Homo sapiens: one gene and its partner. The protein of the gene in region 1 interacts with the protein of each later gene in a pairwise test. Each region holds a gene or a part of one and is shown on either strand. Other genes may lie near its edges. The genes, in order: RCVRN and GIT2.

The links.
Region 2: the proteins of RCVRN (region 1) and GIT2 interact in a two-hybrid assay, tested with the Homo sapiens proteins (one large-scale study listed by BioGRID and IntAct).

The regions. Positions count from the first base shown.
Region 1 is NC_000017.11:9,898,913-9,902,453, reverse strand, and holds part of RCVRN (recoverin), read left to right. Parts: intron 1-1,353; coding exon 1,354-1,465; intron 1,466-3,541. UniProt on the Homo sapiens protein: Acts as a calcium sensor and regulates phototransduction of cone and rod photoreceptor cells. Modulates light sensitivity of cone photoreceptor in dark and dim conditions.
Region 2 is NC_000012.12:109,944,142-109,947,956, reverse strand, and holds part of GIT2 (ARF GTPase-activating protein GIT2), read left to right. Parts: exon of another isoform or gene 1-452; coding exon 453-701; intron 702-2,607; coding exon 2,608-2,697; intron 2,698-3,815. UniProt on the Homo sapiens protein: GTPase-activating protein for ADP ribosylation factor family members, including ARF1.

The DNA of each region.
Region 1 (3,541 bases):
TGCTTTCATTTGCATGATGACAAATGCACAAAAATCTTCCACAGTTATTAGGAGAAATCATAAATAAAACAGCAGAGCATGCAGCTTGTGGTCCATGGGCTTATCCTCAATGCTCAGCTCGGGCCTCCCATTCTGGCAGGCATGTGTCTCTCTCATTGTTATCTTGGCACAGCCTGCAGAGAAAGCTCCCTCGGATTGGCTGTGGGGTCTCTGGGTGGCCTGGGACAGGGACTAAGTCTTCAGAGTGGCATAAACAATGCAGGGCCCAGCAGAAGCCTACAAATTGATACTCATTGAATAAAAGGAGGAGGAAAGGGAGGAGGGGGAAATGAGGGAGGGAGAGAGGGAAGGTAGGAGTCAGGAAGGAAAGAGGGGGAAGCAAGGGGAAGGAGAGAAGGAAGGGAGGGAGGAGAAGGAAAGGAGGAGAGAAAGGAAGAAAGAAGAAAGGAAAGGGAGGGAGGGAGACTCCATCAATGGCTGGGGCTGTGCAAGGTGGCAGAAGGCTCTGCTATTCACCAGATTACAAGTTCATGGGCAGAGCACTGACTGAGGGAGTTAAAAGTGAAGGGTTCTAGTCCCAGCTCTGACTCCAACTAGCAGTGTTGCTGTGGGAAAACCATATAACCTTCCTGGGCCCAGGGTGAGGATTTGATTATTTTTGCAGTCTTTCCTGAGGCTCTGGAGGTCTGTCCCTCCGTGTTGGAAGTGGGGTGGGCAGGCACTCACTGCCAGCTTCTAGCTGGCACACCTGCACATGGTGCCCAAGGCCCTGCACAGATGGATAGGAGTGTAGGAGCCACCTACACTGGCGTCCAGCTCAGGGCTTTGAGTGCTGCCAGCGACGCTGCTGCCCTGGGCTGTGGCTTTGGCCTCTTTACTCCTTTATCCAGCACCAGGGGGCTGAAGGGAAACTTCTCAAAGCTGTCGACCTTCCCTCCAGGATAATTTCACAGCCATTATTGCCCCTGCCTGACCTGCTCACAGGTGTCTCCGGGGAGGCAGAACGCAAATGGTTTGCGAATGTTTTCTCCCATTCCATAAGTTACATTTTGATTTTGTTCATTGTTTCCTCTGACATGGAGAAGCTCTTTAGTGTGATGCTATCCTGCTTGTTTATTCTGGTTTATGTTGCCTTTGCTTTTGGTGTCATATCCAAAAAATTATCGTCAAGACCAGTGCCAAGAAGCTTTTCCCCTACGTTTTCCTCCAGCAGTTTGACGGTCTGAGGTCTTATGTTTAAGTCTTTAATCCATTTTGAGTAGATTTTTGTGTACAGTGTAAGATGTGGATTTTCCAGGGTTGCCAGCCCCTTAAAGTTCCTCCTAACGAGTTCTTTCTTTCTGTTTGGTACAGGCTATTTTCAAAATGATCACTCCCGAGGACGTGAAGCTCCTTCCAGACGATGAAAACACGCCGGAAAAGCGAGCCGAGAAGATCTGGAAGTACTTTGGAAAGAATGATGATGGTGAATTCCTTTTCCTTCATTGCCTTTGATTTTTCAACCATGGGCTGTTTCCTGGAAATCCCAACAAGATTTATTCTTCTGAGTCACAGTGTCCAGGCAGGATGGGGGACACCTCATTCCATTGTGCATTTTCAGAGCTGTTTGAAGGGTTGGACAGGGGAATGGCCTTAAGGGTGAGCAGGAGCCAAAACTGTTTTCTGTGCAATTAGAACAAGAGCAAACTTCAGCTCACCCTAGCTTTGAATTAATATCGAGTCCCAAGTCAGTGGGATCTGTATTTCTATGGTTTTACTTTGGGAAGTTGGTTTGGGTCCTCTGAGAAACACCACCAAGATAGGATTAGATTTAAATGAGATTGCAAGAGATTTATGGGAGGAAAGGCTGAAGAAGGAAAACAGGCTGGGATCGAGAGGAGGCTGGGAAAGCTATCAGACTGCCAAGCAGATCTGACCCCTGGCAGGGAGAGAGGGAAAGAAAGGAAGGTTAGGAAAGAAAGGAAGGTTAGGAAAGAAAGGAAGATTAGGTAAGTAATGCCCGAGACTGCAGTGCAGTCTGAGGAAGTGTTGACAGAGTCGATGGGGTGTCCTCAGTGCCCCTGTCAGTCTTGGTGCCCCTGCCCTGTCAGTCAGTGGCTGGAAGCAGCCCCCAGGAAGTGTGATCCTGCACTGTAGGCAGTGATGGACTCCAGCACTCGGCTGCTGGGGCTGTGTGTCTGTGATGCTTACGGCCAGCACAAGGATGCGGTAAAGGAGCTGGTATTAGGCTGGGGCTGCAAACACATATGGCTGGAGGGGCAGGAATGATGAAAACGAGTTATGTGGACAGTCATCTACAAGCAGTGGGGATTGGCAAACAGCAGAGGGTGCACCTCTGGTCTGATGGCTTCCAGCATATTCCATGTGGGGCTATGGAACCCGTGGTTGAGACATCATCTGATTTTTTTTTAAGAGAAGCCAGCCATGAAGACTTTAAAAATCCAGTGTGTCTCAACTGATAAAACACAGCATGGCCCAAACACATCCAAGGGTCCTGTATTAACCCCTTTGGTGACCTCTGGAGGCAGTCTTCTGCCAAGGTTCAAGAAGAAAAAGCTGAGCAGGATGCTAAATAAGGGCAGAGAGAGATGACCCTGCTCCTCCTAATCTGCCAACAAATGATGAAATAAGAGAAGCATGAAGGTCATTGGGGTAGGAGGAACATAGGACACAGAATTTAAGGAGGCGCTCGTTCTCAGGGGTCAACAATGCACTCACAGGACCTGAAAGTGAGCGCCTCCTTAAATTCGCGCCTTGGTACTTTACCCACCTTTCCCTCATCGGCCCGGATTGGCCCCTCACCTTTGAGCACTCTCTCCTCCTTGCACAGACACTGGCTACCAAGATGCCTTCTTTTGGCACTTTGCCCCACTGGCTCCTTAACTGGCTTCGCGACCTCCCTCTGGGTCCGTTCATGTGTCGAGCCCTGTGTTCTGCTTTTTGCTCATCTGAAAACCTCCCTGGTGAACATCCCGGGAGGGGATGACGTCAGAAGCCCCGAGGTCGACGTGTTACTCCTGTTCGTGATGTGTTGTACGTGTTTCCACGCGGCCCATCTGGAGACAATGCCTCAGGGCAGAGTCAGGCTTTGATGGTGGGAGTTTCAAGCTCTCTGTGAGCTCTCTGTGGGGTGGCTGGGATGTTAAAACCCAAATTTTACCACCCAGACTTGCGGAGGAAGCCATCCTGGATCCTAACCCAGAAGGGATTAAAGGTATCCAAAAGGCCCAGAGCATAAGTCAGAAATCACATTCAGTTCAGCAAAGCTTTGTTGAGCACCGACTCTGTGCTAGGCACTGTGAACATACAACAGAAAGGAGCATCTGTCTCATGCTAGAGGTATTTCTGCGTGTGACTGCCTTCCCCGCCAGGTCAACAGTTTCCCAGGGAGGGACTTCATCTCACTCTCTTCTATTGTACACCCCGCCTCCGCTCCCTGTGGTGGCCTTGGCTCCAAGCACAGTGGCATCTGGGCTCAGGACCATGCATTTAACTGGACTGATCTGAATACAGTTAGCCACCTGATTAAAAACACCGGAAA
Region 2 (3,815 bases), on another chromosome or scaffold:
TTCCATGGTGTCTGCTGTCATTTTTGGCCTTTACAAATTGCTCAGGGCTCATTTGAAAAGCAAGTTACCTAAATGATGTTTTAATGATCTCGAACTCTTGCTTGAAACAGCCTTAGTAATAATCCAGTGTACAGCTTGCCTGCAAACATTTCCCAGCCCCACCATGACAAATTTTAAAGTGGTTAGACATTTTGTTTTGAGGAAGTCCAAACCACAACTTTTCCACATTCAGAAATGAAGCTATTTAATTTGCTTACGTGATGAAGGGAGTTGATTGTGTTTCACCCAATCCAGAAGAAAGGGTCCTTGTTTGTATTGGCTTTTTACTTTCAGCCCGGCTAGCTGTTACTGTCCTTATTGTTTAAAACTGGTAGTTGTATTCATTTACTTGGTGTTTGCTTTTTCTGCTTGCTGTAAAAAAACACAGTCCCACTGCCAAACATTTCTTTCAGCTTCAAACACTCCAGAGTGAAAATTCGAACCTCAGGAAACAGGCCACAACCAATGTATATCAGGTGCAAACTGGTTCTGAGTACACAGACACTTCCAACCACTCTTCCTTAAAGAGACGTCCGTCTGCCCGGGGCAGTAGGCCCATGTCCATGTACGAGACCGGATCAGGTCAGAAACCATATCTCCCAATGGGAGAAGCGAGCCGCCCCGAAGAGAGCAGGATGAGACTCCAGCCCTTCCCCGCGCACGTAAGTAACACCACTGGCGCTTCTGCTGTTCACTCTATGCAGCCTGTCTACTCTGTTCCCTCTTCTGAACCTACAGGTCCCCACAGCTCTGCTTTGCCAAATTGGACTAAGAGAGTTACCATTGTGTTTGCTGTATTAACATGTCCACAGATGCTTGCGATATTCCCACAAGCACACAGGGCCATGGGCTGATGGTTTCCTAACCAAGTTGGGGATTCTGGCTCTTGCCCGAACTGCTGCTTTTTTCTCCCCCACATCCATGATTATTTCTCAACCAGCCAGTGTTGGAACTTTTTTTGGTAAAGCTTCCTTCCTTCTCTACTTCCAAAAACAAAAATAAATCATAAAGTTCACTCTCAGAAGGAAGTGTTGCCTTCTTGGAGCTAGACAGGGATGTGCCCCTTTAAGTACTGGAGCCCTTAGAATCCAAGACGTCTTTTCAGCTCCTCCTCAAGCAGGTGGCCTTGAGTCTGTGGCCCAGGTACCCAGGCAAGGCTGGAAGGCTCCAGGCTTCCGCAGCCTCTCCATGTGTGCTCAGTGTGCCTGCTAGGTTCGCTTCTGCATCCTGCTCCTCCCACCGTGGTGGGGGAAGTGTGGCTTTGTTGTCTCAGAAAAGGAAATGTAATACTCTACATCAGTCTTAGAAGCGCTGAATTCCAGAGATTGTGTTCTGCAGCAGGGTTCTTACAATCTTATTTTGCATTGGGATACATACTGTGTTATAAGGTTTTCAAATATATTTCTTCTGGATTACTTTATTATAAAAATATGTGTTTTGCCAAGATGTTACATTTAAACTTTTTCATGGGATGCTTTTTCAGAGAGTAGTATTTGTCTTTTTGAGTGTCAAAGTTTATTATTTCTTCAGTCAAATTTTATGGGAGTTTCCAAAAAAATTCTCAAGGTAGATGCAAAGCAAGGACATGGTTTCGTGAATTAAACCCTAGTTTAATTTTGTCAATTTTCAGTGTGGTAAAATTACAATATTGTTTTACTATAATTGGGAGTCTGTTATCTCAGATTCTTTTTAAGATATTTGGGTTTAACATTCTAAGGCAATTGATTTGATACATTTGATGTAATGGGAATGCCACTGAACTAAGTTAAGAATCTTTTTTTTTTGAGATGGAGTCTCGCTCTGTCACCCAGGCTGGAGTGCAGTGGTGTGATCTCAGCTCACTGCAACCTTTACCTCCTGGGTTCAAGCAGTTCTCCTGCCTCAGCCTCCTGAGTAGCTGGGACTACAGGCACATGGTCCTGTGCCTGGCTAATTTTTTTGTTTTAGTAGAGACGGGGTTTCATCATGTTGCCCAGGCTGGTCTCAAACTCCTGAGCTCAGGCAATCCGCCCGCCTCAGCCTCCCAAAGTGCTAGGATTACAGGTGTGAGCTACCATGCCCACCCTAAGTTAAGAATCTTATTTTTGTATAGCTGAAGACAAAATTTAGGAAAAGCAACTTTGTTATTTTTCAGTGTACTTTCTTATTTTAGAAAAAATTAGAATATAAAGATATATCAGGAAGGCACTGTAATTGTACTAAAAATTAGATTGATAGTGTATAGCAACTTAGAATCATTTTTATAGTTTCTCATTTCACATCAGTCCTGATTGAAAAACAAATATGCATTTCATAGTATCCATTAAAAAATTATTGACAAGTTTGACAAATTATGTTAGGTATTTCCCTTATGGAAAAGCAGCCTTATTAAATTCAGAGTAATTTCCAGGAGGTGTTTCACCAAGGGTTTAAGCATCTCTGGGGTCCTGTCACTGGTGGCCACTGAGATTGCAGCACTCACGTCACATAATGTGTGGTGTTCCAGGATTCTTTTACTGAAGCTGGCAAGGTGGTAGGTTTTTGGTTTGTTTTGTATTTTCCCGAGTGTGTTTCTCTTTCCCATTCCAGATCGGGAGGAGTGCACTTGTGACCTCCTCTTCATCTCTGCCTTCCTTCCCCTCCACACTTTCCTGGTCGAGGGACGAAAGCGCCCGAAGGGTTAAGTACATTCTGAATGGTCTGCTCTCTGGAGGAGGGGCCGTGCTCCTGGGCGCTTTGTGCTTGGGCTCTGGCCCTCCTGTCCCTGCTAACTGCCCTTCCGTCCTGCATGAGGCAGCACTTCCTCCTGGTTTCTCACAGTGCATCAGGCTCACACTCGTCCACATGCACGCTCACCCATCGAGGGCGCCTCCCTTTCTCTAACCCCATACTGCTCATGTTCACGTCATATTTAACAAAGTTTGCAAATCACCCTACAGCATTTATTCTGAGCAAACTGTTTTTTTAAACAACGAGAAAATTAGCTGGCTGCTGGTTAGATATTATAATAGGCCAAATTTGTTCAATTTGTTCAGGGCTACAGTTGTCAGATTGAAACTGCTGTATGTGGACTCGCTGAAGTACTAAAATGTCATGCCTTTTTTTTTTTTTTTAACCTGTGACACATTTTATGTCAGCACCACAAGTGCTGACAAACCAAGGTTTACAAGTCCCTGCATCTTGAATCAGAATTGTAACACCTTGTGGCATTGGAGCTATGCAAGCAGCTGTTAACCTAAAGCTGTTCACTTGTACGGGTTGGTTAAACCTCACCTACTGGTGTATAATTTATGGTCTCAATAGCAGTGCATGATTCAGGTAAGCCTCTTTTAGAGTAGTCAGGCAGTAAGTATTAAGCACCTCCTCCATACACAGCGTTTGGGTAAGTCAATGAAAGGGTCCTAAGGACTTAGCTGGCACAGCCCCTGCTCCCAAAGGCACTGTCAATTAAAAAATACTTTCATGCATAAAGAGTGGTACATGACCACAACCTGGGAAAGCCGTGGAAAGGGCATAGGCTTTGAAATCCACGTCCCAGTTCTGGCTCCATCTCTTTTTTAATGGAAGGGTAATGTAAGGTAAGAGGAGGAAGGTGGCTGTGGGTAAGGGACCACCTTTACAGGCAAGGTGGGGTTTGCACTGGGCCTTTGCCATTCCCTCCACACCTAGGAATTATGGAGAGCCTTTCTTTCCTAGTTCCAGTGGCATATGGATTACCAAGGCCCTTTCAGGATTCGTTTTTTTATTTTTTATTTTTTAGAGACAGAGTCTCATGTTGCCCAGTCTGTAGTACAATA